Linked DNA regions of Homo sapiens. The protein of the gene in region 3 purifies or fractionates together with the protein of the main gene of each other region. This does not show direct contact. Each region holds a gene or a part of one and is shown on either strand. Other genes may lie near its edges. The genes, in order: OXSR1, PGM3, SSH1, PALD1, CORO2A, AFG3L2 and PPTC7.

Region 1 (4,143 bases), on a different chromosome or scaffold from region 3:
AATATGGATGAAACTTCTCCTTAAATCTTTCAAACTGGGTAACTCTACTTCTTGAGACAGAGAAGGATCTGCCCAAGCATGAGCAGGACTAAGAAAAAATTTCAGTTTCTCTCCGCTTTACTAAACTTAGAAATTTAAGAGAGAGAACGTAGGGCCGGGCATTGTGGCTCCCACCTGTAGTCTCAGCACTTTGGGAGGCCAAGGCAGGCAGATCACTTGAGCTGACAAGTTTGAGACCAGCCTGGCCAACACAGTAAAACCCCGTCTCTACAAAAAAATACAAAAATTAGCCGGGTGTGGTGGCACACGCCTGTAGTCCCAGCTACTTGGGAGGCTAAGGTGGGAGGATGGCTTGAACCTGGGAGGCAGAGGTGAGCCATGATCATACTGCTGCACTCCAGCCTGGGCAACAGAGCGAGACCCCACCTCAAAAATAAATTTTTTAAAAAAGAGAGAGATAATGTAAAAGTAGATATTCCTGTCAGGAAAAAATGAATTAAATGAATCAAATCAAATGAACACATTTTCTCCTAAATTGTGCCCAGCCATCACTATAATAGGCTTATAGTCTAAAGATTTTAAAGTATATTTTAGTAAGGTTTTGCATTCACTGAAGAAAAGCACTAGCCCAGGCTGTTTTGAAAGATGACTAAAGTATTGTCACCTGAACCACACAAAACATAAGAATTTACAATTTTGTTAACCCCTTTTCTAAATAAGGTCTCTTGTCAGAGTCATGTTGAAAATTAACTGGCAAAACATCTGTAAGAATAGTCATCATCATAAAAATCATGCTATTCTCTCCATACAAAGATGAAAATAAAGACACTGCCATATGCTTCAAGTAAGTATTCAAGCAGCCTGATGGTTTTGCAATGAATCATCACTCGCTCTCCTGTTCACTCTGGTGATCTCCCATCTGAGCGGATGGCAACTCCATTCTTCCAGATGCTCTAGCCAAAAATCTTGGAATCATCTTATCTTCCCTTTCTCTCACATCTAATCCAACAGCAAATCCTCCTAACTTCAAAAAATATGCTATATCCAGAATCTGACCACTTCTCACCATCTCCACTACTACTTCTCTCCCCTGGATAACCTCCTTCCACCCTTGTGCCCTTATAAAACTATTCTTCATATTGCAGCCTGAGGTGTTTGTTTGTTTGTTTTTGAGACAGTGTCTCATTCTGTCACCCAGGCTGGAGTGCAGTGGCGCCATCTCGGCTCACTGCAACCTCTGTCACTCGGGTTCAAGCGATTCTCATGCCTCAACCTCCCGAGTAGCTGGGATTACAGACATGCACCACCAAACCCAGCTAATTTTTGTATTTTTAGTAGAGATGGGGTTTCACCGTGTTGGCCAGGCTGGTCTCAAACTCCTGGCCTCATGTGATCCACCTGCCTCCGCCTCCCAAAGTGCTGGGATTACAGGTGAGGCACCTCGCCCAGCCTGCAGCCTGAGTTTTAAAACGAAAGTCAGGTCACGTTAAATCTCTGTTCAAAACCCTGCAATGATTTTCAGTCTTACTCAAAGCAAAAGCCAAGTTCCTACAACAACTTACAACCTGACAATCAGGACCAAGCATCCATACCACCTTACCTTTCTAACCTCTTCACCTATCTGTCTCTTCACCTTCTGATTTACTCTGCTCTAGCTGCCCTCAAACCTCCTTAGCATTCCTTAATCACATTAGCATGCTTCTGCTTCAGAACCTTTGTTCTTGTTGTCCTCTGCTTGGAACAAACTTCCTGCAGATAACCACATCATTCACTTCTTCACCTTCTTCAGGTCTTTCCTCAACTGTCATCTTCTCAGTGAGGTTTTCCCTGACCTAAAACTGAAACCCCACCTCCACCCCTAGCAGTCCCTAACCCCTTTCCCTGCTTTTTCTTCTTTAGAGTTTCTAGATTATAAACTCTGTGAAAGCAGGCATTTTTTGTGTTTGCTTCATTGTTTTATCTCCAGCATCCAGAACAGTGCCTGGCACATAACAGGAGTTCAAGAAATATTTGCTGAATGAATTAATCACATAGTGGGGTATATTTTCAAGGAAAAAAAATCTTGTTTGGGGCAGAACACACACAGAAATAGCCCAGTCTTCATGGGTGTTATTTCATCGTTACCATCATGTACATTAACATTCACTGAGCATCCATTCTGTGTGCCAAGTCTATGCTGAGCACTTTCTTTACTTACATTTCTTCTTTTCATCTAATCATTACAATAATTCCATGTGATAGGTATTCATGGTCTTACAAGACAATGTAAGTAAAGCAATGTAATTAAGGTAAAACTTAGGTCATACAGTTAGTTAGGCAGAGTAGGGCCTAGAAATAAGAACTACCTGAGTTTCAACATTATGCTCTTAATCAGTAGGCAACTACCTCTTCAGATTAAAGCTAACATTTATTAACTGATTACTATGCATCAGGTTAAATTATTTACTTGCAATACCCTATTTGACTATTTTCATTTTAAAAAAAAATGAGGCCAATATTCTTAGTTGCTTAGCAAACATACAATTTCCCCTTCTTTAGTAAGATAATCCTGACCTATTTTGTTTGAAGTAATAATGTGTCCAGCTAAAGCTTCATTTTGCAGTCTGCCTTGCAAATGACCAAATTATACAGTTCTGGCCAGTAAAATAGAAGTGGAAGTCACTGAGTAAGGCATCTAGGAAAGAAAGCCTTTTAAAAGAGAACCAACTCAGCTGTCATGTGTCTTTGTCCTTTTGCCATATTCTTCTGGACAAGAACACAAGCATGAGTCTAGAGGTGGAACAACCATCTTCCAACTATGAGAAGGAGAGTCACCTGCTAAGTGTGGTCGCATGAAAAAACTAGGAGCCTGGGTGCCTGACAGCACCTAGGCTGCCACCTCCAGTCTTCTTGTTATATAAGGGGGAAAAAGGATTTTATTAAGCCACTATTATTTCCATTTTCCCCACATGCAGAGAAATGTAAGCCTTATTTGATACAACACTATGAGGTTGTTGGCCCAATGCTGGCCTCATAGAAAATGTCACCTTAGCTGAGTCTCCCAATCAATGGAAAAATACACTATTAAGCACCACTCTATTGAAAGCACGAAGTCCTTCACATTTATGGAGGCGCTAAAGGTAAGGCCCTGGAATCTGTATTTGAAAACCACAACTTTAAACTCAAAATGTGTGGCTAGTAAACAATCAATGAAAATAAAAAGAAGGGAAAGTCAAGAATAGAAATATATTGCACTGCCTTCAAAGTGTCAAAGCTAGGTGAATCACACCTTAAACCTAGTATTAAGTTTTCAATTTTCTAGTCTGAGGTAAATAGTAAATACTTATTGAGACTTTTCAAGATGCAGGGCAATAAAACCTAACTGGCACAGCCCTCTCTGCCATCATATTGTATTATTAGCAATATCATGGTGATGGTCCTTACAGTTATACTACGATGTCCAACATAAATCCCTAAATCCATCTAAACCTGAATGAGGCCTGGACTAAGAAAAAAAAAGATGCGAAAATAAAATAAATGCAATAATGTTCCACTAAGCATTAAAAACAGATTCAAACTATTTTAAGTGTCACAAGCTTTCACATCACATAGTATTTCATATTTCATGGCAATACCAAAAATTGGGAAATATGAGGACAAGGGGAAGGGTAAAAAAAAGTCAGAGATAATAACAACTATCATTTTATACAAGCTAAACACTTCCCACAAATAATTACACTCAATCTATATAACGGCCCCAGTGACATAGGTACTATTCTCCCCACTATACAGACAAAAAGCTGACACGGAAACTAATCATATAATTTGTCTAAGATCACATAACTAGTAAGAGGCAATGTCAGGATTTGAATCTGGGTCAGTCTAACCCCAAAGCCCAAATTTTTACAGCTGCTTCAACACATGCCAAATACAGTATAACACATGCTCAGAAATTCTAATCTAAGACTAAGGGCTCAAAAATACTGAAAGATCAATGATTAATTGTGAGAATGATACTAACATCTTTTACACATAATCATACTTAAAGAACTTCAAATCTTGCCAAAGCATGCTTAAGGTGATACAATTCTTTAAAAAAAAAAAAAAGTCCTTTGAATTTTCAATCTATAGGCTTTTAATATGTTCCTAAGAGGAGATTCTGTT
Region 2 (4,143 bases), on a different chromosome or scaffold from region 3:
GTACCTATAACACATGCATTTAAAGAAATACAGCAATTACTCAGATGTCAAATGTTTCTTGCATACCTAGTATCCCAGAGATACAAAGGGGAACAAAATACTGGGGCCGAGTCCAGTGAGGAAGACGATTAAGCATTAAAATACAAAATGGTACGTATACAATGGAAGCATGAACACACTCTGGAAGCACGCAGCCAAGGGTAAAGCACGGTGAGAGAGATGAGGGTCTCCTTATAAGACACGAAAGATTACAAGTGGGGGCGTGACATGACCTAACTGTTTTAGAAAGCTGTTTAGCTACAGTGTGGAGAATAGCTTAGAGCAGAATTGCAAGCTTTTTCTGTAACAGGCCAGACAGTAAATATTTTAGGCTTTGCAGGCCATATGGTCTCTGTCACAATTACTCTGCCATTACAGTGCAAAAGCAGCCACAGACCATACATAAACAAATCAACATAGCTCTATTCCAATAAAACTTTGTTTGCAAATAGCAGCAAGTTCAATTAGAAGGTTAAGAAATGGAATGAGGAGGCTTCTAGGACTAATCCCAGTAAGAAATAGTGGCTGGATCAGCAATAGTGAATAGGGAAAGTCATGGATGGATGGATCTGAGAGAGCTTTAAGAATGGTTAAGGAAAGATTGATAGTAGAAAAACTGCAAAAGAAAGATCAGCATTAGATTGGATGTAGGAGACCTCAGGAATGGCAAGGGCTAAAAATATTTCATCTGGAAGACAGTGAGTTGAGAAGTAACAGTTTCTTAAACTAGGTTATTTTATCTGTAATAAATTTTTAAGACAGAAAATGAAAATCCTAAAACAATAACCCAAGTACTGTGAAATAACCCAATCCCTGTGAAAGGCAGGCAAATGGGCCCCAGATGGAATCCCTTGAATGAGCTTATTATAACCATATATTAAAATCAGGTCATAAACTAGCAGCCTCAAGATATATTTCGTTTTGCCCAGCCACTGTTTCTTTTTAAACAAATAGGAACATCACATGAAAATTCAGATTTCCTGCTTCTCTTGAAGAGTGTGACTACAGTTGACATCAGCTGGCACATACTGACCTGTTTTTAGCCCCCTGCTGCCCTCATTCACTTTACCTGTCCAAATCCTGCAGGAATCTGACTTTGTAATTCCTGCTTTCTAGAGAATGGAAAGGTAACTAAAACTAGTATAAATGCCAGAACGAGGTACAAAATGAGGTACAAAAAAGTTGGAAAACTTCTCGATAATGAGAAAGTATAGGCAAACAGACTTCCAGTTTTGTCCATGAACCCTGGTAACTCTCCGAGCAAGTAGTGTGGTGCCAAGGGTGGTCACCTGGTGGACACCGGGGAAATAATTAGAAACAGAATCTCCCACCACCCCAGAAAACCTCTCCAAAAAAAAAAGAAGGGTAAGAAACAGTTTTATTACTGAATAAGTATTAAGCCAAACTGATGTTCAATCACAGGCTAATTTGCTAAGAGATAGCAAAGATAAACGCTCACCCTTTAATATAGCCAAGCGGACACATTCCAATACAATTTGCTAAGATAAAAGATGGCTAATGACAAAAATTCTCTCCTTGACCAAACTTTAGTTAGGTTTAGGTGGGCCTGACTAGGCCTTGTCCTTAGGCATGTCTTCCAATAGCCCGATTTTAATAAGAGTCATGCTAAGTGAGCTTAGCGAGAATCCCTCATCCTGATACATGACCACTCTTGACATCTGATCTGAGTTCTCATTCTCTACCATCCCCCAGGTAATATGTGACCGCCCTGGCCTACCTTCAGCAAAAGTCCTGTTAGATCAGTTTAGCCAAAATACCACCCACTTACCCTCATGTTTCCTCTCAGTAATTTTTCATCCACTGACCACCCCCCACACACCCTGCTCCTTGGCTATAAAGCCCTACTTTTCCTTACTATATTTGGAGTTGAGCCCAATCTTTCTCCTACCACTGCAAAACTCCATCACATTAGTCCCTGTACCTATCACAACAGTCCTGAATCAAGTCTGCCTTACCATTTTAACAAGTGTCATGAATTATTTTTTCTTTAACACTAGTCCTCAAATAGGAAAACTTGAAACCACCATTTGTCACACACATAGTTTATCCTAAACTTACTTGGTAATAGGGATGGCCACCTGTGTTAACTGCCCTTCTCTAAAGGAGTAATAAAACTTTTCATACCTCTGTGACAGGTAGATAGTTACAAATTGGACGCAAACACCTAAGTTAAACTCTCCTGAGACTGGGAGATAGGTGAGCTATCTTCCTTGATGTTTATATTTGAAATTGGTGACTCTAGGCCCTTAAAGAAAAGTATTCCTGAGCTATAAAACTGGCTTATTAGGCCTTTAGAAAGACTTACATTCATTACAAAGGCACAGAGAAAGAATTCCAAGTTTTCTAAAGGAAAACTCCAAGAAAAGGAAGGAAAGAAGTTTTCCTTTATTCATCAAGGACAACTAAATTTTTTCTTATTTATTTCTCTTTACCTTTACATGAACAGCAGCTCAGCTTCATGCACTACAACATAATCACTTTTATGAGGGCAGTATCTTTCTCACAGAAACATGATCTTAATTAAGAAACTACCAGAAAACAAAAATGGTTCAATACCTTCATAACTTCTTCAAGATACCGTGTTGAACTTCCATTTGCATATGCAGTTTGTACAACACCAATATTCAAACTTTCTCCAATCTAGACAAAAACAATGATACTTAACTTGCCATCAAAAGTATGGTCTACAAAAACAAATATAATGAGAGTTCTAAAGGCTACCAAAATTATCAGCCAGTTCAGTTGTGCCTTAGTTTATGCCAAAAATGTCTGACTGAAAATTTACATGTATGCCAGGAAAAAAGCCTAAAATACATTTGAACACTATTTAAAACAATTCTATGAGAATTCCTCTTTTAAGAAGCCTGTATCTCCTGATCTTCACCTCTTTAATTTTTTAAATAAAAGTATCTGGCCAGGCACGGTGGCTCACGCCTGTAATCCCAGCACTCTGGGAGGCCAAGGTGGGTGGATCACCTGAGGTCAAAAGTTCGAGACCAGCCTGGCCAACATGGTGAAACCCCATCTCTACTAAAAGTACAAAAATTAGCCAGGTGTGGTGGCATGCATCTGTAATCCCAGCTACTTGGGAGGCTGAGGCAGAAGAATTGCTTGAGCCCAGGGAGGCAGAGGTTGCAATGAGCCGAGATCACGCCCCTGCACTCCAGCCTGGGCAACAGAGCAACACTGTCTCAAAAAAAAAAAAAAAAAAAATCTATTAAATTCTTAAAGTATGCTGTTTCCAGATTATAATAATTTCCAATTACATTGTGTACTTAAAGCTAGCCTGAGATTTATTTCTAAAATAGCAAAATGAAACAAATCTCACATTACTAAGCTTATCATAATCAGTTAATATATCAGATGATGAGATTTCCTATTAGAATTTAGGGCTTTTATGGAGTGACCACAGAACTGTCATCAAAGTTTCAATTATGATGGAAGCAAAACTTCCTAAAGCTTCAAATCACAAAACTCAGCCAGTATAAGGAGGAAAAGAGTACCTTCAGGTTCCAAAGCCAATGCCTCAAATGTTCAAATGACTGGGTATTACCACTGCTCTTTTTTTAATTTTCTGCCCACTAATGTAAAGAATTTGTCATAAATTGTGCCCTTCTGACAAATGATTGTAAAATATGGAACTATTTCACTACTAAGTCTTGTTTTAGAGGGTAGCCAATCCCCCCACCATACCTCCACCAGGAGCTCTTTAAGGAAACTGCTAATTAACGTTGCTATCTTGTCTCCATCTATGAGATGAAAGTGGCCATCTGCATCATGGTAGTAATAAACAATTCTGTCTGCATCTCCATCAAAAGAACAGCATCTTTCATTGGACTTAATTTCCATTCCTAGCACACAGGATAATTTAACATGCATTTCAGTCTAAGAATTTATTATAAAGAGTTTTAGAATTTTCTCTTAAAATTATCCACCTAAAAATCAATGTCTTAATCTTAAATAGTGTATAATCTTTAAATAGTACATAGTTTATTAGTGGTTTTTACAGGTCAAATTCTTTCACTGCAAAGTGAAAAAAGGAGCATTCAAAATCTATGCTGATATTTGCTATAATACTACCAT
Region 3 (4,580 bases):
GTCCAGTGCATTGGAAGACATTTAGCATCCAAGGCTCTTGCACTCTAAATGCCAGGAGCTCTCCCCCTCCATCAGCAAGACAACCACAAACATTCCCACAAATCCCCTCTTAGAAACGCTCCGTAGAAGCTACAGTGCCCCCCACTAGAATCACCTTTGAGATGAATCGTGCTGAGACCCTGTGAATAACATGGAGGAGGTCACAGCCCCAGGACAGAGGGAGGGACGGGGAAGAATCCAGGAGGCTGCGTGGGTTTCCTGTTGGGCAGTAAGACAAATTTGCTAAGCTGCGGGGCAGGCTGGGACCACTGCGTTTGCGAGTGCTTGTGCAACATGCAGAGGTTGGGGGTGGGAGCCGGGAGATGAGATTTTGGCTAAAAGAAAAGTTTCCTACTACTAAGTCAAGCCAGAATTGCCTTCTTGGTATCTTATTCCATGTTCCCCTCTCCATCCCCATAACTGGTCACCTCTCCCCGGGACAACAGCAGCAGCCTCCTCCCTGGTCTCCCTCAGCCCTCTGCCCCGTGGTCCCTCATCCACGCAGCAGCCGGAGCGATCTTTCCAGAGAGGATGGAGACTCCAGCCATTCCTCCCCTCTTCCCTTCCCTGAGTGCTGGCCTCCGGTTGACAAACTTCTTCCTGCTTCAGGGCACGCTGATCCCCCCTGCTTGGAGAGCTGTCTCTCTGTTCTTTCACCTGTTAATCCTGCTTATGCTCAAGCCCAAGCCTCAGAATAAAGCTCTTCTGGGAAGCCTTCCCTGACCTCCAAGGAGTTGGCTGGGTTTCAGAACACCCAGAAAGAATTCATTGAAAAAGATTAGCAAAATACTTTTTTAAAAACGTGCCTAATAACTTGATTAACCTCTGCAAAATCAGGCGAATCTATTTTGCTTACTGTTTTTGTTTTTTGTTTTTTGTTTTTTTGAGACCGAGTCTCGCTCTGTCGCCCAGGCTGGAGTGCAGTGGCGCGATCTCAGCTCATTGCAACCTCCGCCTCCCAGATTCAAGCGATTCTCTTGCCTCAGCCTCCCGAGTAGCTGGGACTACAGGCGCGCACCACTGCGCCCAGCTAATTTTTGTCTTTTTAGTAGAGACGGGGTTTCACCATGTTGGCCAGGATGGTCTCGATCTCTTGACCTCGTAATCCGCCCGCCTCAGCCTCCCAAAGTGCTGGGATTACAGGCGTGAGCCACCGCGCCCGGCCCCAGGACGTCTTTTATTTCCTGGTCGCTGTACAGTCCTGTCTGCACGGTCGCCGGGCCTCAGTTTCCCCAGGCAGAGCAGCGGGCAGGGCCCCTGGGGCGTACGGGCTCCGGGCGGCGCGCGCGCCCCCGAGTCCCAGGCCTGATAGCGGGGCGCGCGGGCGGGGGCGCGTGTGTCGGGCGCGCGAGGGACGTGATCGACCAGCCGAGGCCTCGGGCAGCCCTCAGGGCCCCCGCGCACGCGCGCCTCCTCGTCCCGCCCTGCCCGCTTCCCCGCCCACTCCGCGCACTGAGGCCTGCGCGCGCCGGCGCGGGAGGCGGGAGCTGGGGGCGGGGGCGGTGGCGACGCCGAGGGGGAGGGGCGGGCCCGGCCCGGCTCGGCCCGGCCGCCCGCGCGCGGCTCCAGGAGGCCCCGGGCCCGGCCCGGGCGGCGGTGGCGGTGGCGGCTCTAGCTCGAGACGTCTGTGGCGCCCTCGCACCGCGCCGCAGCCATGGCCCTGGTGACCCTGCAGCGCTCGCCCACGCCCAGCGCCGCCTCCTCCTCGGCCAGCAACAGCGAGGTGAGCCCCGGGCTCGCCGCGCCCGGCCTGGGCCGCCGGACGCCGCGCCGAGGCCGCCGGAGCTGGGGCCGCGCGTGCGGGGCAGGGGGGCGGCTGCGCGGGCTCCTCGGGGCCCCGCCGTAGGAACAGAGCCGGGCAGCCGGACCGGGGTGACCGTGCGAGGACTGTGTGCGATGTGACCCTGTCTTGGGGAGCTGTGCGGGGACTTTGTGTGCGGTGTGACCCCTATCGGGGGGCGACTTTGCAGGGACTGTGTATGCAGTGCGACCCCTCTGGGAGTGTCTGCAGGATACTGTGTGTGCGCTGTGACCCACATCAGGGGGTTACCCCCATCTTGGGGTGACCCCTGTTAGGCGGAGACTGTGTGCGTTGTGACCCCTAAGGGTGACTGTGCAGAGACTGTGTGTGCAGATGTGACCTCGTGATTGTGTGGGGACTGTGATTTCAGGTGTGACCCCCATCTTGGGTTGACCTCTGTCTGGGGAGGACTGTGCGTCTGTCGGGACTCCCATTTGTGAGTGACTCTGCAGTGTGACCAGGGTCCAGGGGTGACTGGATGTGCAACTGGGACCCTTGATTGGGTGACTGCGTGAGCCGCTGGTTCTGAGACCTGTGGCCGGGGTAGTTCTAGGCCCTTTGCCTGTATGCCTGGCTGTGCGATGTGAGATGTGACTGTTGCTGACCTGCCGTCCGGGGACTGTGCCAGCGTGAGACAGGCATCTGGGAGTGCCCCTACAAACGTGTGAGATTGTTTCCCCGCCTGCCGCCTCTGGAGTTCTGTCTGTAGGCGTGCCCGTGTCACTGTGTGACGGTGACCGAGCGTGCTGTGGGCTCTGTGTGGCTGTGTTTCACGTCTGTGCGTGCAGCCTTAGTCTGGCTTTTCCTTTCTGTAACATCACTCAGGCCTGTGTGTTTATGTGCATCTATCTTTCTGTGTGGCTGTGACCCATTCTGGGTGATTGCATAGGTGCATTCCTGGGTTGCGTGTCCTGGCACTGTGCGCGTTTTTGTGGGTCTGTGTGTGGCCCAGGTCCGTTTGCCTGGCCACTTTTTCCTCTGGGGTTGATTGAGGGCACTGTTGCCCTCTTAGCCTGCAGGGTTGGCCTGGCTTGTCCTAGGCTGGGGCCTTGGGCCTCTGAGCAGGTCAGCCCTCTGTAGCTGCAGGGATGACCCTCTGGTCGCGCAATCTTGCCCACCATCTCTTGAAGAACCCGTCAAGGCCTCTGGTCTAAACTCTTACCTATAACAAGGCTGAGTGTCCGCCTGCAGACCCTTAGCTGTGTTTAGAGAAGACTGGAGGAGCGGCCCTGCGGTCCCAGGCCCAGGAAGTTCCGCAGCCAGCATCTGGGCTCTTCAGCCCCTTTCTTTGTGGGAGGGAGTGGGGGAAGTTGACTGATAACACGGGGGAGGTTTGTGTGTCTGAGAGAGACAAGAGAATAATGTTTGCATTTGGCTTGACAGCCCTGTCTCCTGGTAGGGTAGTTCTTCAGCCTTGTTTTGCTGGGATTGGCAGGGACATTTTCAGAGTGGCTGGGAAGTTGAACCTTCACAGCCCCCTCCTTGGAGAGGAGAGGCCATTCATGAGTTATCTATACACAGAAGGTTCTAGTAATCCCCCTCTACACGCTGATTAGAGGCAAAAGAACACTGGCGATCAATAGCCTGCTACTGAGAAGTTAGGTTGCAGGAGCGCCTTTCCTTCCCACAGCGAGGAGGGGCTGTTTTCTGTTCCGGTCACTGCTGTCTGGCAATTTATGCACTTAATCTCAGGTTCTCATCACAAAAGTTTATGTGAGGTAAGGGGAGAGGTTGGCTTCAGGCTGAACCTGTCAGCCCAGATTTCTGATTCAAAACCCCATGTTCCTAGAGTTACTTGCAACCTAATCTGTTCTTGTCTTACGCATTTTAAGGTCTTATTATTTTTTAGTTACATACCATAAATTTGCCATTTTAAAGTGTACAATTCAGTGGTTTTTAGTATATACATGAGATTGTGCAACCACCACCATCTAATTCCAGAACATTTTCATCCTCCCCAAAATAGGAACCCTGTACCCGTTAGCCCTCACCTGCAGCCTCCCCCTGCCCCATTCTCCCTAACCTTAGGCAACCACTAATCTACTTTCTGTATCTATGGATTTGCTTATTCTGGACATTTTATATAAATGGAATCACACCCTGTGTGGCCTTTTGTGTCTGGCTTCTTTGACTCAGCATCACGTTTTCAAAGTTCATGCATATTGTAGCATGTGGCAGTACTTCATTCCTTTTCATGGCTGTATAATACTCCATTGTATGGATGTACCACATTTTGTTGGACATTTGTGTTGTGTCTACTAGATACATTTTCAATTATTATATAAAGCATTATTTTTACCAAGTGCCAATGACCCTGATAAACATAAAGTAAAACTCAGGCAGCTTTTATTTGATCATAGCAAAGCTGCAGCATTCATTGCTTGGCTTTGAATGCGCTGGGATGTTTCCCGAAGGCAAGGCCCTCGTTCAGATGTGTTGAGGTGAGAAGCAAGGTGGGATGGAGACAGCAAGTGTGTATGGGGTCAGGAGACCTAGGCCAGGCCGGTTCTGCCCTGGTCCGCCCTCGCTTGAGTTGCTTCCTGTGTGTGGGCCCTGGCTCATCTAAAAGGACTGAATTACCTCTTTCATGTGTTCCTTGGCAGATGTAGTTTCCCTGGAATAACTGACCTGAGATGGCCTTTCATCTGAGAACCTCAGAGAGTGACCGAGAGTTAAATGATTGTGAAGTCCGTACCCCCAAGTCACGTCATCACTCTTCAAATTGCAACTTCATAATGAG
Region 4 (4,143 bases), on a different chromosome or scaffold from region 3:
TTGAGACAGGGTCTCACTTTGTCATCTGGGCTGGAGTGCAACGGTGAGATCATAGCTCACTGGAGCCTCAACTTCCCAGGCTCAAGCGATTCTCCCACCTCAGCCTCACGAGTGGCTGGGACTACAGGCATGTGCCACCATGCCTAATTTTTGTATTTTTTTATAGAGATGGGGTTTTGCCATGTTGCCCAGCTTGTTTTGCACTCCTGAGCTGAAGCGATCTGGCTGTCTCAGCCTCCCAACGTGCTGGGACCACAGGCGTGAGCCACCGCACCCAGCCAGGTTCCAGTTCTTAAGGGAGGGCCTCTGGCTCGGGGGTGTTCACACACTTGGCTTCCTCAACACAGAGGGTGCACAACCCTGACCTGTTGGGTGTCGCTGGAGCTAAGTGAGGGAGCCCCTGCCTGTCTTGGCGCTGGGAGCCTGCTTGGGGAGACCAGCCCTGCACCTAGAACCACAGTGCCTGGTGTGGTCACCCACATATCTCCCCTGACCGCAGATAACCACAGCATCTGGGATAGGGTGAGACACTTAGAAGAACTTACAGCCTGGCAGAACTGTGTCATGAAGGGAGGGAAAGACTGTCTTCTGGGGAGTTCCAAGGCTTAACTCCTGCCCTTGCAGGGATGGGGACAGGGACAAGACTGCCTGAGGAGTCTGTCCTTAACACCCTGTCCTCTCTCTCAGGGAAGCGGCAGCCGACACAGCGTCTGGCAGAGGGCGCTGTGGAGCCTGGAGCGATACTTCTACCTGATCCTGTTTAACTACTACCTTCATGAGCAGGTGGGGCCTGGGAGGAGCAGACCCACGTCCCCTCCTCCTGGGCCTCTCCCAGCCTCCCCACCGCAGTGACTGGCTTGCTGTGGAGGGAGACCCCCCAAGGAACCGGGGAGGGAAGGGAGGCCAGGAGAGACCCAGATTCGGGAGTAGTCCCTGAGCAGCTGGGCATAGGGAGGCCCCACCTCTTTCCACCGGGCCCTTGTCTCTGTCCTTAACCAGGACACCAGACGTCCAGGTCTTCTCTCAGCCACTCCCTTGTCCCTGCTCTGGGCCATGTTGGATATCTTTTGGGGCTTCCCCTGCCATGGTGTGGGCAGGGAGGGTTCAGGATGGCCCTGTGCCCCTGAATTCCTCGTCTCTCTGCCTCGGGCTGCAGTACCCGCTGGCCTTTGCCCTCAGTTTCAGCCGCTGGCTGTGTGCCCACCCTGAGCTGTACCGCCTGCCCGTGACGCTGAGCTCAGCAGGCCCTGTGGCTCCGAGGGACCTCATCGCCAGGGGCTCCCTAGTGAGTATGACTGGCAGTCGGAGAAGTGGGCATGGCTGTGTACTGGCCCTGGCCCCTAAACACTGGATTCCTGTAGGGTTGGGGTAAGCATTGCCCTTGCAGGAGGTGAAGAAGAGAGGCTGTGGGTGTTGGGATCCTCTTGTGAACAGAATGGGGTCATGCTTAGGCCCCAGCAAGCATTTGCAGCTTTGGCAGCTGTTCTGGTACCTTCTCCTCAGTCTCAAACCCAAGAGCTCTGGGCAGGGTTCTATGATCTTTGCCTCCAGCTTCTTCTCTTTGAGCCTCAGCTTCCTGGTCCAGAGAGTGGGCACCATTGCACTTCTTCTTGCCAGGGCCGGGGGAAGCTCCAAGTGTGCAGGAGTGCTTTGTAAACTGTGAAGCTCGGGTTCCACCCCACCCCCCGTCTGCCTTGGGCCAGGTCCTGACCCTTTCTGCGGCTACAGTCGGCTGCTGTGGGTCCCAGGCTTGGTGCTCTCCCCACAGCGGGAGGACGATCTGGTCTCCCCGGACGCGCTCAGCACTGTCAGAGAGATGGATGTGGCCAACTTCCGGCGGGTGCCCCGCATGCCCATCTACGGCACGGCCCAGCCCAGCGCCAAGGTGACCGGCCCTCAGGGCCTGGGTCCCCCAGTGGGTTTGGGGAGGGAGGGCTGAGCACTCACTGCCGGCCCTCCTGTGCCCAGGCCCTGGGGAGCATCCTGGCCTACCTGACGGACGCCAAGAGGAGGCTGCGGAAGGTTGTCTGGGTGAGCCTTCGGGAGGAGGCCGTGTTGGAGTGTGACGGGCACACCTACAGCCTGCGGTGGCCTGGGCCCCCTGTGGCTCCTGACCAGCTGGAGGTGAGGCCCCCTGCCCTCTAGGCACCCCTGCCTCCGAGGCTTCTGGGGAGTGGCCTGGGAGGGTCTTCAGAAGGCCTCACACTCCCGCAGACAGATGGAGAATCTGAGGCCCCGGGAGGAGCAGTGTCAGGGAGTGGCCAACTCAGGATTCCCACTAAAGTGCTCTGCTAACCTGCTTGGCTTTGGGGGGTGGCTGTGACCCCTGAGGCTTGGGGGGGTCAGGGATGGGACTGGAAGCCAGGGCCAGGCCTGGCCATGGCAGGCTGTGGCCTTTCAGGGCTAGCCTAGAGCCTGCCCCAGTGGCCTGTGTCCTCCCTCCTGCCCTTGCCCAGACCCTGGAGGCCCAGCTGAAGGCCCATCTAAGCGAGCCTCCCCCAGGCAAGGAGGGCCCCCTGACCTACAGGTTCCAGACCTGCCTTACCATGCAGGAGGTCTTCAGCCAGCACCGCAGGGCCTGTCCTGGCCTCACCTACCACCGCATCCCCATGCCGGACTTCTGTGCCCCCCGAGAGGAGGTGAGGGTGCTGCTCAGGCTGAGGCCTCTGGGGAGGGACAGGAGGCCTCCCTGTCTCCCCTCTGGTCTGGGCTCTGGGAGAATGAAACGACCCCAGCTTCTCTACGGGGCCCGGGAATGGTCTCACGAGGTTTTCCGATTTGGCCCAAGTGGTTTATTCACATTCCTTCCAAGCTTTGTGTGTGTGTACGTGTGTTTATTATGTGTTATAGGGTATATGTGTGTGTATTGTTATAGGTGTGTGTGTATTGGAGTGTGTATTCTGTTACGTATGTGCATATGTGTTATAAGATGTGTGTACATGTGTTTATTATGTTGTAGGGTGTATGTGTGTGTATTGTGTTATGGGTGTGTGTTATAGGTGTGTGTGTGTTATCGGGGTGTGTGTGTATTCTGTTACAGGTGTGTGTGTGTATTTGTTATAAGGTGTGTGTGTGTGTTGAGGGTGAACATGTCCAGGGTGTCCGTGGTGTGTGTGTCTCAGTTGGGGGACTGTGTATGGAGTGTGTGGGTGGTGTGTGGAATGTGTGTGTGTGTGCATGTCTTTTTATGGAGTTTGTGATGTCTCCCTTGTCTGTATTGGGGGCTGTGTGTGGAAAACCATCTTTAGGGGAGTGGTGTGGTGTGTGGTAGGGTTTGTGGAGGGGTCGTTAGGAATGTGTGTGTGTGGCATCTGTAGGTCTGTGACTGTGGGTGTCTGTATAGTGTGTGTGTTTACCGGACGTGGATCCCTGTGTGGTGCGTGTGTCTGGCGTGTGTTGTAGGTGAGCCACCGTGTGCGTGGTGCGTGTGTTGTAGGTGGGTCGCTGTGTGCTGTGTAACTGGCAATGGGGTCTGTTACCCTGCCTGAGCCCCTCCTGGCGCATCTCTTCGCGGCTCTCACTGCCTGCGGTCTGCTGCCTCCTGGTGGCCTTGTGCTGCAGGGCTCTTCTGAGGTCAGGCCCCCGTCCATGGTGGGACCAGGGCTGGGTCCAGCTCAGGTGGGTGGCAGGGCCAGCAGTCTATGTGCAGCCCAGGGGCGCAGTACACAGGGGTGACATACAGGTGCATGTCCTGCCTGATGGAGGGTGGGTACCTTGAGCCCCAGGTGCATGCTGTGTTGGCTCACACATCCTGTCCAGGTGCTTGGTGTGAGGGTGATTACGACTGCACAGGTGCAGCTGTTTACACGCACATGGTCTCATGCACCCCGGTGAGTTTTGTTTGTGTGTGCAAGCTTGGGAGCCTGACAATTTCTGGCCCGAGGACAGTGGCTGGGGCTGCCATGTGGATGGGGACCCTGTTGGGGTTTGTGCATCCAAGAGACGCCCGCTGACCCAGACCTTGCTTTTCTCGTCCAGGACTTTGACCAGCTGCTGGAGGCCCTGCGGGCCGCCCTCTCCAAGGACCCAGGCACTGGCTTCGTGTTCAGCTGCCTCAGCGGCCAGGGCCGTACCACAACTGCGATGGTGGTGGCTGTCCTGGCCTTCTGGCACATCCAAGTACGTGTGGCCTCTCAAGTGAGA
Region 5 (4,143 bases), on a different chromosome or scaffold from region 3:
GCTCTGGCTGGACACCTTGACCTTGTCTCTTCCCAACTCCAGGCCCAGATGTGGGGGGACCATTGGTGTTTCTCAGCAGGGGCACCTGCTAAACTGGGGGCAGAACAGGTCTCCACTGGGTAGGACTATCCCATGTCTGGCAGCCCTGGCCCCTGCCCACCAGTGCCAAGAACAGCATCTCTCCCCCTCCATCCAAGTCATTATGACAACCAGAAATGTTCCCCATGGTAAGACCTTCTGGATGACCTCTGAGGCCACCCCAGTTCTGACTTTTGCTGCTGCTCTCAGATAGGAGCGGGATTTGGACTTGTCTTCCCAGAGCTTCTGTCTTAGAGGAAAAAGGGTGGGCTTTGGGTCATGGTGGGGGAGGATTGAATATTAAAATAAGGGCCCAGGCCCAGCACAGTGGCTCATGCCTATAATTCCAGCACTTTGGGAGGCCAAGGTGGGAGAATCACTTGAGCCCAGGAGTTCAAGGCCAGCCTGGGCAGCATAGTGAGACCCCATGTCTACGAAAATGAAAAAATAAAAAATTAGCCAGGCGTGGTGGCACACACCTGTGGTCCCACCTACTCGGGAGGCTGAGGCGGGAAGATGGCTTGAGACCAGGAGGTTGCAATGAGCTGTGATTGCACTACTGCTCTCCAGCCTGGGCAATAAAGTGAGACCCTGTCTCAAAAAAATAAGATAAAATCTAAAATAAAATGAATATCCCCTCATCACCCTCCTGCCTTGATGACAGGGCCCCCAGTTTCCTGGTGTTCCCTTGAGTGAGATGGGTTTGCCGATCATCAAAAAAAGCCAGGTCTTTGCTGCATGGCTGGGTTGCTGATGAGCTGATGAGCTCCAGCTCTGAATCTCACCCTCCTCTTCCTTCTCCTCCTCCTCAGGGAGATGGCAACATCCGCTACTACGAGGTGAGCGCCGACAAGCCTCACCTGAGCTACCTGACTGAGTACCGCTCCTATAACCCACAGAAGGGGATCGGTAAGTGAGGGACACTGAAGTTCATGCCTGTAATCCCAGCACTTCGGGAGGCCGAGGTGGGAGAATCAGGGTCAGGGCTTCAGTGCGGGGTCTGGGGAGACAGGGATGAGTCAGATGGGAGGAGAGACAGCATAGCAACACTCTGACTTGGTGGGGGCTGTACTTGACGTGTGCAACAGCACAAAGGAGGAAGTCAGGGAAGGCTTCTCAGAGGAGGCAACATTGGAGGAACTGAAAGAGGAAGCAGAGCCCAGCAGGGGAGAGAGGGATGTGTTCTAGGTCAAGGTTAAGCAGTTACCACAAGAGCAGAGATGGAAAGGGCTGACCTAGAAGAGCCTCTAGGAAGCAGTCCTCAGTTCCTTTCTAAGTGTGCTTGAGGATTAAAAACACAGCTATATTTCTGTAATCTACAAGAAACCCACTTTAAACATAAAGACATGGCTAGATTAAAAGTAAGGGACTGGAGAAAGATGCACCCTGCTAACCCTACTCAAAAGGAATCTGGAGCGGTTTGATTAAGAGCATTTGGGTCACAGGAGCTGTGGGGATGGAGATGGGGAACCTTAAGCAGAGCAAACTGCCTATAAAAGTTCAGCTAATCCAGCACTTTGGGAGGCCAAAGCTGGAGGATCACTTGAGCCTAGGAATTCGAGCCTAGCCTGGGCAACAAAGTGAGACTCCTGTCTCTACAAATAAATAAAAAAATTGAGGTGCATACCTGTGGTCCCAGCTACTTGGGACGCTAAGGCAGGAGGATCGCTTGAGCCCAGGAGTGTGAGACTGCGGTGAGCTATGATTGTGCCACTGCACTCCAGCCTGGGCAACAGAGTGAGACCTTGTGTCAAAAAGAAAAAAATTCAGCTAAAATAATTTAAATCTTTGAAGGTGAAGAGTCTGATTAATTCAACTCCATTTCCCAACATAGGGCCCAGCCCAGTGTCGGTATTTGTCCCTGAGCTGTTTTCTGGGAGGAGACTGGTCTCTGTTCAGGTCCAGGTGTGCAGCCTGGCTTTGGCCCTAACACTGTGGCCCCAGCCTAGCCAGAACCTCTTGGCCCTCCCTGTCTGCCTTCAGGTGTCATGCCAAAGAGAGGACTCGACGTGTCCTCCTGCGAGATCTTCCGCTTCTACAAGCTGATCACAACCAAAAGCCTCATCGAGCCCATCTCCATGATTGTGCCCCGGCGGGTAAGGGCAGTCGGGACCGCATGGGAGGCAGGTGGGGAACCTGTCCTGGAGAAGACAGACCCAGGGCTGTCGGGCACCAGAGCCTGGAGCCCACGTTCATGGGGCAGCCACAGAGCGGCCTTTCTCACAGCCAGTGTGACATCAGTGGGCGTCAGGAGTCCTGGGTCTCGGTCCACCTCTGTTCTTGAGCTGCTGCGTGACCTCGGGCAAGTCCCTTTGTTCTCTGGGCCTCAGTTTCCTCAATTCAGCAGGGGTTGGTGAGAGCCTGGACTCCCAGGTCTAAGGGCCTTTCCCATCTGAGCAGCCTACCCTACCACCCTCCTCACTGTCTGGATTTCTCCTGCAGTCAGAATCCTACCAAGAGGACATATACCCTCCAACAGCAGGGGCCCAGCCCTCCCTGACGGCCCAGGAGTGGCTCAGCGGGATGAATCGAGGTGAGGAAGGCAGAGAAGAGGCCCAGGCAAATGTGACAGGAACATGGCGTGCCCAGTGGCCCCAAGCAATTGAGAGGGGTTGGGCCTGGATTTTTCTTCTCTCATGACCTCAGAAGCCATGCCCTTGACCTTCAGTCCCCAGTGGGTAGCATGGTCACATACAGGTCCAGAAAGTCAGGGGGCTTGACCCAAGAGCTCAGAAAACTCCAACTCAAGGGACTTTGCCCCACGGAAAGCTTCTTTACACTCTGGGGCTATGTGGGGTGCCTGGACCACCTCAGCCAGACTCCCTGTCCCTGTTCCCCACCCCTACCTCTGCAATTCTTTTTTTTTTTTTTTTTTTTTTTTTTTTGAGACAGAGTCTCGCTTTGTTGCCCAGGCTGGAGTGCAGTGGTACAATCTCAGCTCACTGCAACCTCCACCCCACCCCCAGGTTCAAGTGATTCTCATGCCTCAGCCTCCTGAGTAGCTGGGACTACAGGCACGTGCCACCATGCCCAGCTAATTTTTCGTATTTTTAGTAGAGATGGGGGTTTTGCCATGTTGGCCAGGCTGGTCTCAAACTCTTGACCTCAAGTGATCCACCTGCCTCGGCCTCCCGAAGTGCTGGGATTACAGGTGCGAGCCACTGGGCCTGGCCTTTTGCAATTCTTCTTGACCCAAGAAGCCCTCCAGGCAGCAACCCCCACCCAGGTCCCTCTGCCCACTCTGCCTGTCCTGAGCCACTCTCCCGCTCCTGCCAACACGGGGGCCAGCCCAGCAGAAGCAGTCACCCCAGCTGCTCCCTCTCCCTTCCACCCCCACAAACTTCCTTCACCCCCACCCCAGTGGCTGAGCGGGCCTCCTGGTGTACTGGAAGAGCCTCTGCCTTGGGGGGCAGCGGACCAGGGCCGAGTCCTAGTTTTGGATAACCTTAAGTAGGTTTTGCTCCCTGGGCCTCAGTTTCCTCATCTGTAGCCATGATGCCAGCCTCCCCTGCTTTCTGGAGGTGGTGAGAGAACTAATGAACTTGGTAGATGGTGGGGTGCAGTGTGGGTGGGACTGTCCTTACAAAGCAAGGGCAAGGTCTCATGTGAGTTTGAAGTGTTTGGGGGCTGCTTCAGTGCACGCACCGTGCTGTTCCTACAAACCAAGCTTCACTCTGAGGGTGGCACACGTGGGTATTTGTATCTGTTAGCCCTGCTCTGTGGGTTTGGGCCTGTCCACAGGTAGCTGTATTTCCCACACATGTTGCATGGGTCTGCATGGCTCTGAGTGTCTCTGCATGCCTGCCTGTGTCATTGGTGCCCCATATGCCCATCTTCCCGTGGGCACCCCGTCCTCACATGGCTCTGCTTCCCTTCCAGACCCAATCCTGGTGTCCCTTAGGCCTGGCTCTGAGCTGCTGAGACCCCACCCACTGCCTGCAGAGAGACCTATCTTCAATTCCATGGCCCCAGCCTCACCCCGGCTCTTGAATCAGACAGAAAAGCTGGCTGCAGAAGATGGCTGGAGGTCTTCCTCCCTGTTGGAGGAGAAGATGCCAAGGTGGG
Region 6 (4,143 bases), on a different chromosome or scaffold from region 3:
TGGTCTACTATAGGTAGCAGACTGCAGTCCTAGCTGGTGCGAGGGAAGGTGGGGTGGAAGTCACAGGCCTTGCTGAAGTCTTAGGCCTGGAGGAGAGCTCAGGCCAGGGACTGGTGAGAGGTCACTCTAGCACTCTAGGGGGAAGGGCCATCTCTAGCAAGTGCCTCCATCTGTGGTGAAGTGGTGGGTGCAAGGAAGCTGTACCATCCGAACAGAATGAGACTCACTCTAGCAGGGCCCACACCAACGAACATCTCCAAAAACTCAGATCCACTAACGGTGATGAAGGGGACATTGGCTTCTCCGGCTGTGGCCTTAGCTAGCAGCGTCTTCCCAGTGCCTGGAGGACCAGTGAGAATGGCACCCTTCAGATATGAAAAAAGAAATTACATTTAATGAGAATTCCAGAAAAGTAAATTGTGTATCCACAAATAATTACAAGATATAACTCTGTCTCTAAATCTTATTGATATATATTAAATATTACTTAAACATCTGAGCTATGGTAGAACATTTTTATATTAGTAAGAATAAAAAGATTATCAAAAATAATTTTGTTTCAAAAAATTTGGTAAGAATGTGAAATTTAAAATATTTCCTTTTTTTCCTAGGGCTGATTTTTAGACCTTTAGTCTAACAGTATGTAAAGGGTGACTTGGGCTAGGAATATACTAATAAATCTGCTAAGGTTTACTTAAATAATTTAAGAAGACACCAACACCACACTCCTGATTTATGTAATTCTTTTACTCTTTACAAGTAAAATTGGTTTTTGAGCTCAAATAATTAATAAACCCAACTTCTGACTTCTACTTTCATGTACAAATCAGTACATTTTTAGCATGGTTGGACGTGCAACTTAAAACCTAACTGTGAATTTGTTTTTATTTCCACTGACTACCCACAAACAGTATCCTCTCTTATTTATAGACATACTACCACACTACCATATCCAAATACTGTGAGGAGGTAGATAATATGGTCAAATGATATTTTTTCTAGGCTTTGTAATAAAACCTTAAGGTATTTTTAAAATTTTGCTTATTTTCTTCTTTAAAAGTTTCACAAATGAAGTAGAAATCTAACGACCAATGATGAACTTAACTTCAAAGAAAGATGTGTTTGCTCAAACAATACACTTTTTTTTTTTTGAGATAGAGTTTCACTCTTGTCCAGGCTGGAGTGCAATGGCACGATCTCGGCTCACTGCAACCTCCACCTCCCAGGTTGAAGCGATTCTCCTGCCTCAGCCTCTTGAGCAGCTGGGATTACAGGCGCACAACACCATGCCCAGCTAATTTTTTGTATTTTTAGTAGAGACAGGGATTCACCATGTTGGCCAGGCTGGTCTCGAACTCCTGACCTCAGGTGATCCACCCACCTCAGCCTCCCAAAGTGCTGGGATTACAGGAGTGAGCCACTGCGCCTGGCCCTACACAACTATTATATTAAGTTGTAGAGACAGTTAGGTGTAATGCAAACGGGTACTAAGTAAGTTATAAATTCATAAAATATGACTTTTTATCTATAGAAGTAAGACATAAAAATCAAGGAAATGATTATCTTTCAAAGGATTCCTTTAAAGTAAAATTTATTCATGGACTTTTAAAAGAATTATACCTTTTTATTCATTTACTTAATAGCTGATCCATTTAACAAATATGAAGTTAATGCTCCACGCCTAGCCCTAGGGGCACCAAGCCCTGTAGGGTACAGCCCACCACTAGCACAGTGGGCAAGAGCATATTTGCTGGAAAGGGGAAGGTGATGGTGAGTGCTGTGTCCTCTCCACTGGATCCTGTGCCGTGAACCTCAGCGCCAGCACAGGTGTCCTGTCCACATACATCCCTCGAAGGGACACTGGGTGACAGCAGAGTGTGACATTGTCAGTGAGCTACAGCGGGCCTACAGTTGCTGAGAGATAGGGCATCTAAATCAGATTGGAGGGAAAAGGAAGACGAATCAAGAAAATCTTCCAAGAGGAGGTGACACAGATATTTTCAGGAATACATACACTATACAAGACACATGCACACAGAACTGACCCAAAACGATCCTCGAGTTGGGCAGAGGCTAGCCTAGTAAGCTGAGAAAGAGGAAGGACAGAAAAACAGCTATCTATAATAAGTAATCAAACTTCACAGAATTATAACTTCAGAGATCAAGAAACATTTCAAAAAGTTAATCTTAAATTTCATTTTACCTTTGGGATTTTTGCTCCTAGGTCTTGATACTGCTTTGGGTTTTTCAAGAAATTCACAAATTCCATGATCTCTAGCTTGGCCTCCTCACAGCCAGCCACATCTTTGAACTTCACATCAATTTCATCCTTTAAGACCTTGGCAGTGGTTTCTCCGACACTGAAGAGTCCGCCCATCCCTCGGCCTGTCCGGCCAATGCCAGCAGGCCCTCTTCTGATGGTGTAGAGCAAGAAGGCGATGATGAGCACCGTAGGCAGCATGCTCAGCAGAAAAGAGCTGGGGACACACAGCGCAACACGGGTTAGGACTGGCTGCTCACCTCCAGCTTTCACATGTGGTGCAAGATATCAATATAAATATATATAGCTACACCAAGGTATACCTTCTGCACTTAATACAAAGGAGGGTAACTTGCAAGTGTTCTTCAAAGGCAACAGAATTCCCAAATAAGCTCCATGGCAACCAACTCTTCGAAATAAATGGAGCATCTGCCCAGACTTTAAGTGGGGTTACTAACATGGTCTTATTAAAGACAACCCCCAAAGAAGAAGTTCTGATGAGAGAAGAATCACCTAAAAATCCTGGAAAACTGTGAAATGTAAACATAAATGATAGTTCAAAGATGGGAATGGCACTCTTTGATACAAAGGGGTTCTTTATGCTAAAATCCTACCAAAGGTCAATGCATTGAATGTTAATACCCTAAACCACTGCTTCATCAAGATAAGTATAAATGTGTACAAAAGGAATGAATCAAAAATAAAAATAAAAATAAAAATAAAGATAAAAAGCCAGGTGTGGTGGCTCACAACTGTAATCCCAGCACTTTGGGAGGCGGAGGCAGGTGGATTACCTGAAGTCAGGAGTTCAAGACCAGCCTGGCCAACATAGTGAATCCCTGCCTCTACTAGAAATACAAAAATTAGCTGGGCATGGTGGTGGAAGCCTATAATCCCAGCTACTCTGGAGACTGAGGCAGGAGAATCGCGTGAACTGGGGTGGGGACAAAGGTTGCAGTGAGTCAAGATCATACGACTGCACTACAGCCTGGGCGACAGAGCGAAACCCCACCTCAAAAAAAAAAGAAAATGAATGAGTCATGCAAAAACTAGTGAGTTACTAATAGTTTTTTAAAAATCTGGCCAAACTGATAAAGGCCTGTTTGAGAATATAATGTATAGCCCTGCACCCAGGGACAGAACACAGTGAACCACAGGCAGCACAGTCAACAGTCTACAAAATATTATATTTGAGATTACCCATCACTTTCAGCAATGTAGACAACAGGCACCCGATTTTCTCCTTCTATGCCCAATTCCTGCTGTAAAGTTTCCAGATTCCGTTCAAAGGTGTCCACACTGCCAATATTAAACCAAACGTATTGCTATAAAAACAAAAAAACAAATATCCTAAGAATGTAGTGAAACTAAAAGGTTCAATTCACTAAACGGTTCAACTTTTTAAGAATTTTCCAGAAATACTGAAAATTTATAAATTAAAGAATAAACAATAATAAAAGACTGGCTTTAATAATGGTGGTGATTAAATGTCACTCATTGAGAACACTTGGCAATTCTTGGCAAATAAGCATTTCTTTAGCAGCAATATCTCAGTGGCTCTAAAATTATAAACTCAAAAAACAGAATGAAAAACCTATTTGAAAACGTAATCCTTTTTAAAATAAATATGCATTATTTCCCTCTTCCTCTATTTCCTAGGTATTTTAGCTCCCTATTCCCAAATTTAAAACTACTGTGAAACAGGGATAAGAGCTAAAGTTTACTGGGCATGTACTAAGTACCAGGCATTGTTCTGGGCCCTTCAGATGCATTAGTTCATTCAATCCTGAGGACCATCCTAAGAAGCAGGTGCCATCACTGGGGGTGATGTTCAAAATCCGAGCACCGCACCCCACTGTGCAACTGGAACAGATGCGCCTTGC
Region 7 (4,143 bases), 1.7 Mb from region 3:
AAAAATAATTCATTCACTTGCCAGTCGCAGTGGCTCACGCTTGTAATCCCTGCACTTTGGGAGGCCAAGGCGGGCGGATCACCTGAGGTCAGGAGTTTGAGACCAGCCTGGTTAAAACCCGTTTCTACCAAAAATACAAAAAATTAGCTGGGCGTGGTGGCACACGCCTGTAATCCCAGCTACTAGGGAGGCTGAGGCAGGAGAATCACTTGAACCTGGGAGGCAGAGGTTGCAGTGAGCTGAGATTGCACCATTGCACTCCAGCTAGGGCAACGAGAGCTAAACTCCGTCTCAAAAAAAAAAAAAAAAAAAAAGAATACATTCACCGGAAATAGCTACAGTATTTTGGCATAGTAAGGACTCTGTGTCTCCCAAGGGTCCCAAAGTGGTCATCATACGTAGGTATTTATTAGTGTGCCTCATGTAACACGTCTTCAAGAAATATCTTGATATCTTGACCAGGCGTGGTGGCTCACCCCTGTAATCCCAGCACTTTGGGAAGCCGAGGCAAGCAGATTATTTGAGGTCAGGAGTTCAAGACCAGCCTGGCCATCATGGTGAAACCCCATCTCTGCTAAAAATACAAACGTTAGCCAAGCATGGTGGCGTGCGCCTATAATCCCAGCTACTTGGGAGGCCGACACAGGAGAATCACTTGCTTCAACCCCAAAGCTGAAGGTTGCAGTGAGCTGAGATGGCGCCACTGCACTCTAGCCTGGGCAACAGAGCAAGACTCCATCTCAAGAAAAAAAAAAAATAGAAGAAATATCTGTTGCATAACTGAATGAAGCAGCAAAATATTTGACTCTCCAAATTGGGGGAAAAAACTCTTCAATATACTGTTGAAGAAAGCAAGGTGAAGACGGTGTGTCGTATGTGCAACCATTTCCGTAAAAAAAAAAAGGCAGAAAGACACACAGACATGGATGCTTCTATATGCAGGGAATAGATCTGGAGAGAATCAAAGAAACTGCTCATAGCGGGCTGTGGGTGGTGGCTCACACCTGTAATCCCAGCACTTTGGGAGGCCAAGGTGGGCAGATCACTTGAGGTCAGGAGTTCAAGACCAGCCTGCCCAACATGGTGAAACCCTGTCTCTACTAAAAAATACAAAAAGTTAGATCATGGTGGTGCACACCTGTAATTCCAGCTACTCGGGAGGCTGAAGCAGGAGAATTGCTAGAGCCAGGGAGGCAGCAGTAGCAGTGAGCCGAGATTGCGCCACTGCACTCCAGCAGCCTGGGCAGCAGAGCGAGACTCTGTCTCAAAAAAAAAAAAAAAAAAAAAAAAAAGAAAAAGAAACTAAAGAAACTGCTCATAAAGAAACCTTTGAGGACAGAATATGTGGCTAAGGGCAGGAACAGGAGGCAGATGTCTCACTAAACTTTTTTGTGTACAACTCTTGAAAAAAAAAACAGATGGAAGATCTTTTTCTCTGACAATGCCTGATGAAAACAGACATAAAAATGGGGGAAAACCCCGGGTGGGGAGAAAAGATCCTATATTCAGAGATCATGGCCTCCTGAGGCTGGTTCTTGGCGACTTCTTAAGGCCAGTTTCCCTCCTTCCAGGCCTCCCTGGGGAGGGAAAGGTGAGATCTGATAATCCGCCTTAATCTGTAATTAAGGAACAAGAGCCAGGAAAGCAAATCAGATACCGACCCGGAAGGGAGGCACCAGATCCAAAGCACCCTAAGCTCCACGGAAAAACCCCAACACTTGTGTAAGCAACATGTGACAACATTTGTGAAGAGAAAGCATAAAAACTAACAAACAAAAGCACACATGCCTATGAGGATTCACACTAAATGCACTCAGAAAATTTCTGGTTCATCTTCACTTGACTGAGGAAAAAGGTGGCACATGTAAAGTTCTGCCATGTGCTGCTGCAGGGAACCGACTTTCACTTACATATTTAGATAATCAACATTTTGTAAAAATGTCTACTAAAGGAAAACCTGTAAGTTAAGGTTAAAATAATATTCTGTAGATAAGAGGGACCATTAACTAAGGAGATACATGCAGCATGAAAAAAAAAAAAGGGAAAAAGACTGTAAAACTGGGGGAAATCAGGTCAATTCTTTCTGTGGAATAAAGAGAAAACAATGCAAGACGCTCTCATCTGCTCAGCCTTTGAAAGCTAATCAGATTCTAGAAGTGTAGATTAATGACCAGGTTGGCACTGAAGCTCTGTTTTATGCTGAGGTTTTTCTTTCCCCAGAAGTGTCCTTTGCTATTCTGTCTGTGAGAGTCTTGCTCCCATTGGACAGTTCGTCCTCTCCTAACACTCCCACCCATGAGCTTGGTGTTCTGCCAGCTGCAGTTTTGCCCATTTTGATTGAACATACTGTGCTGCTGGAAACTTTTGACCGCACTGAAACATGAGCTGAAATCACATGCTAGCGAGCTGTCTCTGGGCTCTAGGGGAAGCCACCTCCACCTCGCTGGCATGCCGGCAGAGTACTGCCCCAACCTGTCTGTCCCACAGACAGTGTGTGAGATATGGCAGGGCTGCTTTGGTGCTTGGAAGCCCAACAAGAAGAATCAAATGAAGAAAAAATTGAAGCACCAGTCTCCAAAAACTGTGATCTGAGCTTGGGCTCTACGGAGGCCTTGGGGTTCAGAGTTCTCCCCACTCCAGTGTGGCTAACAATAATGTAGATTACAGCCAACTTTAGAAGGGCCTAGAATCAAATACTCTTCCAATTATGGTCACCCGCCTACTTTTACTTTTTACTTTTGGATTTAGACTGGTGACCATAATTGGAAGAATATTTAGACTTTTACCGGTAAAAGTTACTTTTACTGCTAAATTTTTAGATGGGCAATGCTGAACATTTAATTACATAACATGCTCGTTCCAGTTTAAAAGATGGCAATAATAATTCATTTTATCTTAGTTTGGACCTAAGAGATGGTTTAATGAGAGCTATTAAGTAGAGACAAGTACTTGCTAGAATGCTTCTATTTTTACAAAAGGTTCATTGTCCATTAATCAACATTTATGAATTGCCAGTGATGTTTGTGCCAGGTCCTATAAAGCTATAAGATTGTTAAAGACACTGAAATCTGAGGCTTTGCCTTACTCTGGACACTCATCTAAGAAAAGATAAACTGTAAAAGTCAACTCAAAAAAAGCACCATTTTGGCTGGGCGCAGTGGCTCATGCCTGTAATCCCAGCACTTTGGGAGGCCGAGGCGGGTGGATCACGAGGTCAGGAGTTTGAGACAAGCCTGGCCAACATGGTGAAACCCTGTCTCTACTAAAAATACAAAAATTAGCCAGGCATGGTGGCGGGCACCTGTAATCCCAGCTACTTGGGAGGCTGAGGCAGGAGAATCGCTTGAACCAGGAGGCGGAGGTTGCAGTGAGCTGAGATCATGCCATTGCACTCCAGCCTGGGCAACAAGAGCAGGACTCTGTCTCAGAGAAGGGGCGGGGAAAAAAAGCAGCATCTTGGAACGTTCTTGACAATTTAAAAGTGAACTGAGAAAAGATGTGAGAAAGAAAAAGAGAACACCTCAATAACATTATCAAAGAACATATCCAAGACCACTTTTTTTAAAAGACAGGGTGTCACTATGTCACCCAGGCTGGACTCCAGCGATTTTCCAGCCTCAGCCTCTCAAGTACCTGGGACTATGGTCCTACACCACTGTGCCCACCTCAAGACCATTTTGGTTTTATTGTTTTGGTTTTTTTTGAGACAGAGTCTTGCTCTGTCACCCAGGCTAGAGTGCAGTGGCGCAATCTCGGCTCACTGCAATCTCTGCCTCCTGGGTTCAAGCGATTCTCCTGCCTCAGCCTCCTGAGTAGCTGGGACTACAGGCGCCCGCCATCACGCCCAGCTAATTTTTGCATTTTTAGTAGAGATGGGGTTTCACCATGTTGGCCAAGCTGGTCTTGAACTCCTGGCCTCAAGTGATCCACCCGCCTCAGCCTCCCAAAGTCCTGGGATTACAGGCGTGAGTCACCGTGCCCAGTCACTTAAGACCATTTTGACTCCATTTCCTGCAAGTTCTATTTGATGCATGTAGTAAGAGGTCTAGAGAATCAGGAAGTTACTCCAATAAATAACGCAGATGTCTGTTTGTGCTCTTCCCTAACAATGTATGCAAAATCTTGTACAAGCAATGGCATGCA

Evidence for each region.
Region 1: the proteins of SSH1 (region 3) and OXSR1 purify together in Homo sapiens (affinity purification with mass spectrometry, with the first as the bait; one large-scale study listed by BioGRID). This does not show direct contact.
Region 2: the proteins of SSH1 (region 3) and PGM3 purify together in Homo sapiens (affinity purification with mass spectrometry, with the first as the bait; one large-scale study listed by BioGRID). This does not show direct contact.
Region 4: the proteins of SSH1 (region 3) and PALD1 purify together in Homo sapiens (affinity purification with western blotting; one study listed by BioGRID). This does not show direct contact.
Region 5: the proteins of SSH1 (region 3) and CORO2A purify together in Homo sapiens (co-immunoprecipitation; one large-scale study listed by IntAct). This does not show direct contact.
Region 6: the proteins of SSH1 (region 3) and AFG3L2 purify together in Homo sapiens (affinity purification with mass spectrometry, with the first as the bait; one large-scale study listed by BioGRID). This does not show direct contact.
Region 7: the proteins of SSH1 (region 3) and PPTC7 purify together in Homo sapiens (affinity purification with mass spectrometry, with the first as the bait; one large-scale study listed by BioGRID). This does not show direct contact.

Annotation. Positions count from the first base shown.
Region 1 is NC_000003.12:38,171,610-38,175,752, reverse strand, and holds part of OXSR1 (serine/threonine-protein kinase OSR1), read right to left. Parts: intron 1-4,143. UniProt on the Homo sapiens protein: Effector serine/threonine-protein kinase component of the WNK-SPAK/OSR1 kinase cascade, which is involved in various processes, such as ion transport, response to hypertonic stress and blood pressure.
Region 2 is NC_000006.12:83,176,057-83,180,199, forward strand, and holds part of PGM3 (phosphoacetylglucosamine mutase), read right to left. Parts: intron 3,912-4,143; coding exon 3,754-3,911; intron 2,701-3,753; coding exon 2,617-2,700; intron 5-2,616; coding exon 1-4. UniProt on the Homo sapiens protein: Catalyzes the conversion of GlcNAc-6-P into GlcNAc-1-P during the synthesis of uridine diphosphate/UDP-GlcNAc, a sugar nucleotide critical to multiple glycosylation pathways including protein N- and O-glycosylation.
Region 3 is NC_000012.12:108,854,610-108,859,189, reverse strand, and holds the start of SSH1 (protein phosphatase Slingshot homolog 1), read left to right. Parts: upstream 1-1,606; 5' UTR 1,607-1,693; coding exon 1,694-1,762; intron 1,763-1,895; exon of another isoform or gene 1,896-4,580. UniProt on the Homo sapiens protein: Protein phosphatase which regulates actin filament dynamics. Dephosphorylates and activates the actin binding/depolymerizing factor cofilin, which subsequently binds to actin filaments and stimulates their disassembly.
Region 4 is NC_000010.11:70,537,124-70,541,266, forward strand, and holds part of PALD1 (paladin), read left to right. Parts: intron 1-687; coding exon 688-783; intron 784-1,156; coding exon 1,157-1,285; intron 1,286-1,768; coding exon 1,769-1,885; intron 1,886-1,968; coding exon 1,969-2,124; intron 2,125-2,456; coding exon 2,457-2,639; intron 2,640-3,978; coding exon 3,979-4,119; intron 4,120-4,143.
Region 5 is NC_000009.12:98,126,638-98,130,780, reverse strand, and holds part of CORO2A (coronin-2A), read left to right. Parts: intron 1-890; coding exon 891-987; intron 988-2,061; coding exon 2,062-2,174; intron 2,175-2,520; coding exon 2,521-2,611; intron 2,612-3,957; coding exon 3,958-4,143.
Region 6 is NC_000018.10:12,356,467-12,360,609, forward strand, and holds part of AFG3L2 (mitochondrial inner membrane m-AAA protease component AFG3L2), read right to left. Parts: intron 3,586-4,143; coding exon 3,461-3,585; intron 2,478-3,460; coding exon 2,204-2,477; intron 366-2,203; coding exon 228-365; intron 1-227. UniProt on the Homo sapiens protein: Catalytic component of the m-AAA protease, a protease that plays a key role in proteostasis of inner mitochondrial membrane proteins, and which is essential for axonal and neuron development.
Region 7 is NC_000012.12:110,541,408-110,545,550, forward strand, and holds part of PPTC7 (protein phosphatase PTC7 homolog), read right to left. Parts: intron 1-4,143. UniProt on the Homo sapiens protein: Protein phosphatase that plays an essential role in mitochondrial metabolism and biogenesis. Positively regulates biosynthesis of the ubiquinone, coenzyme Q. Dephosphorylates the ubiquinone biosynthesis protein COQ7 which is likely to lead to its activation.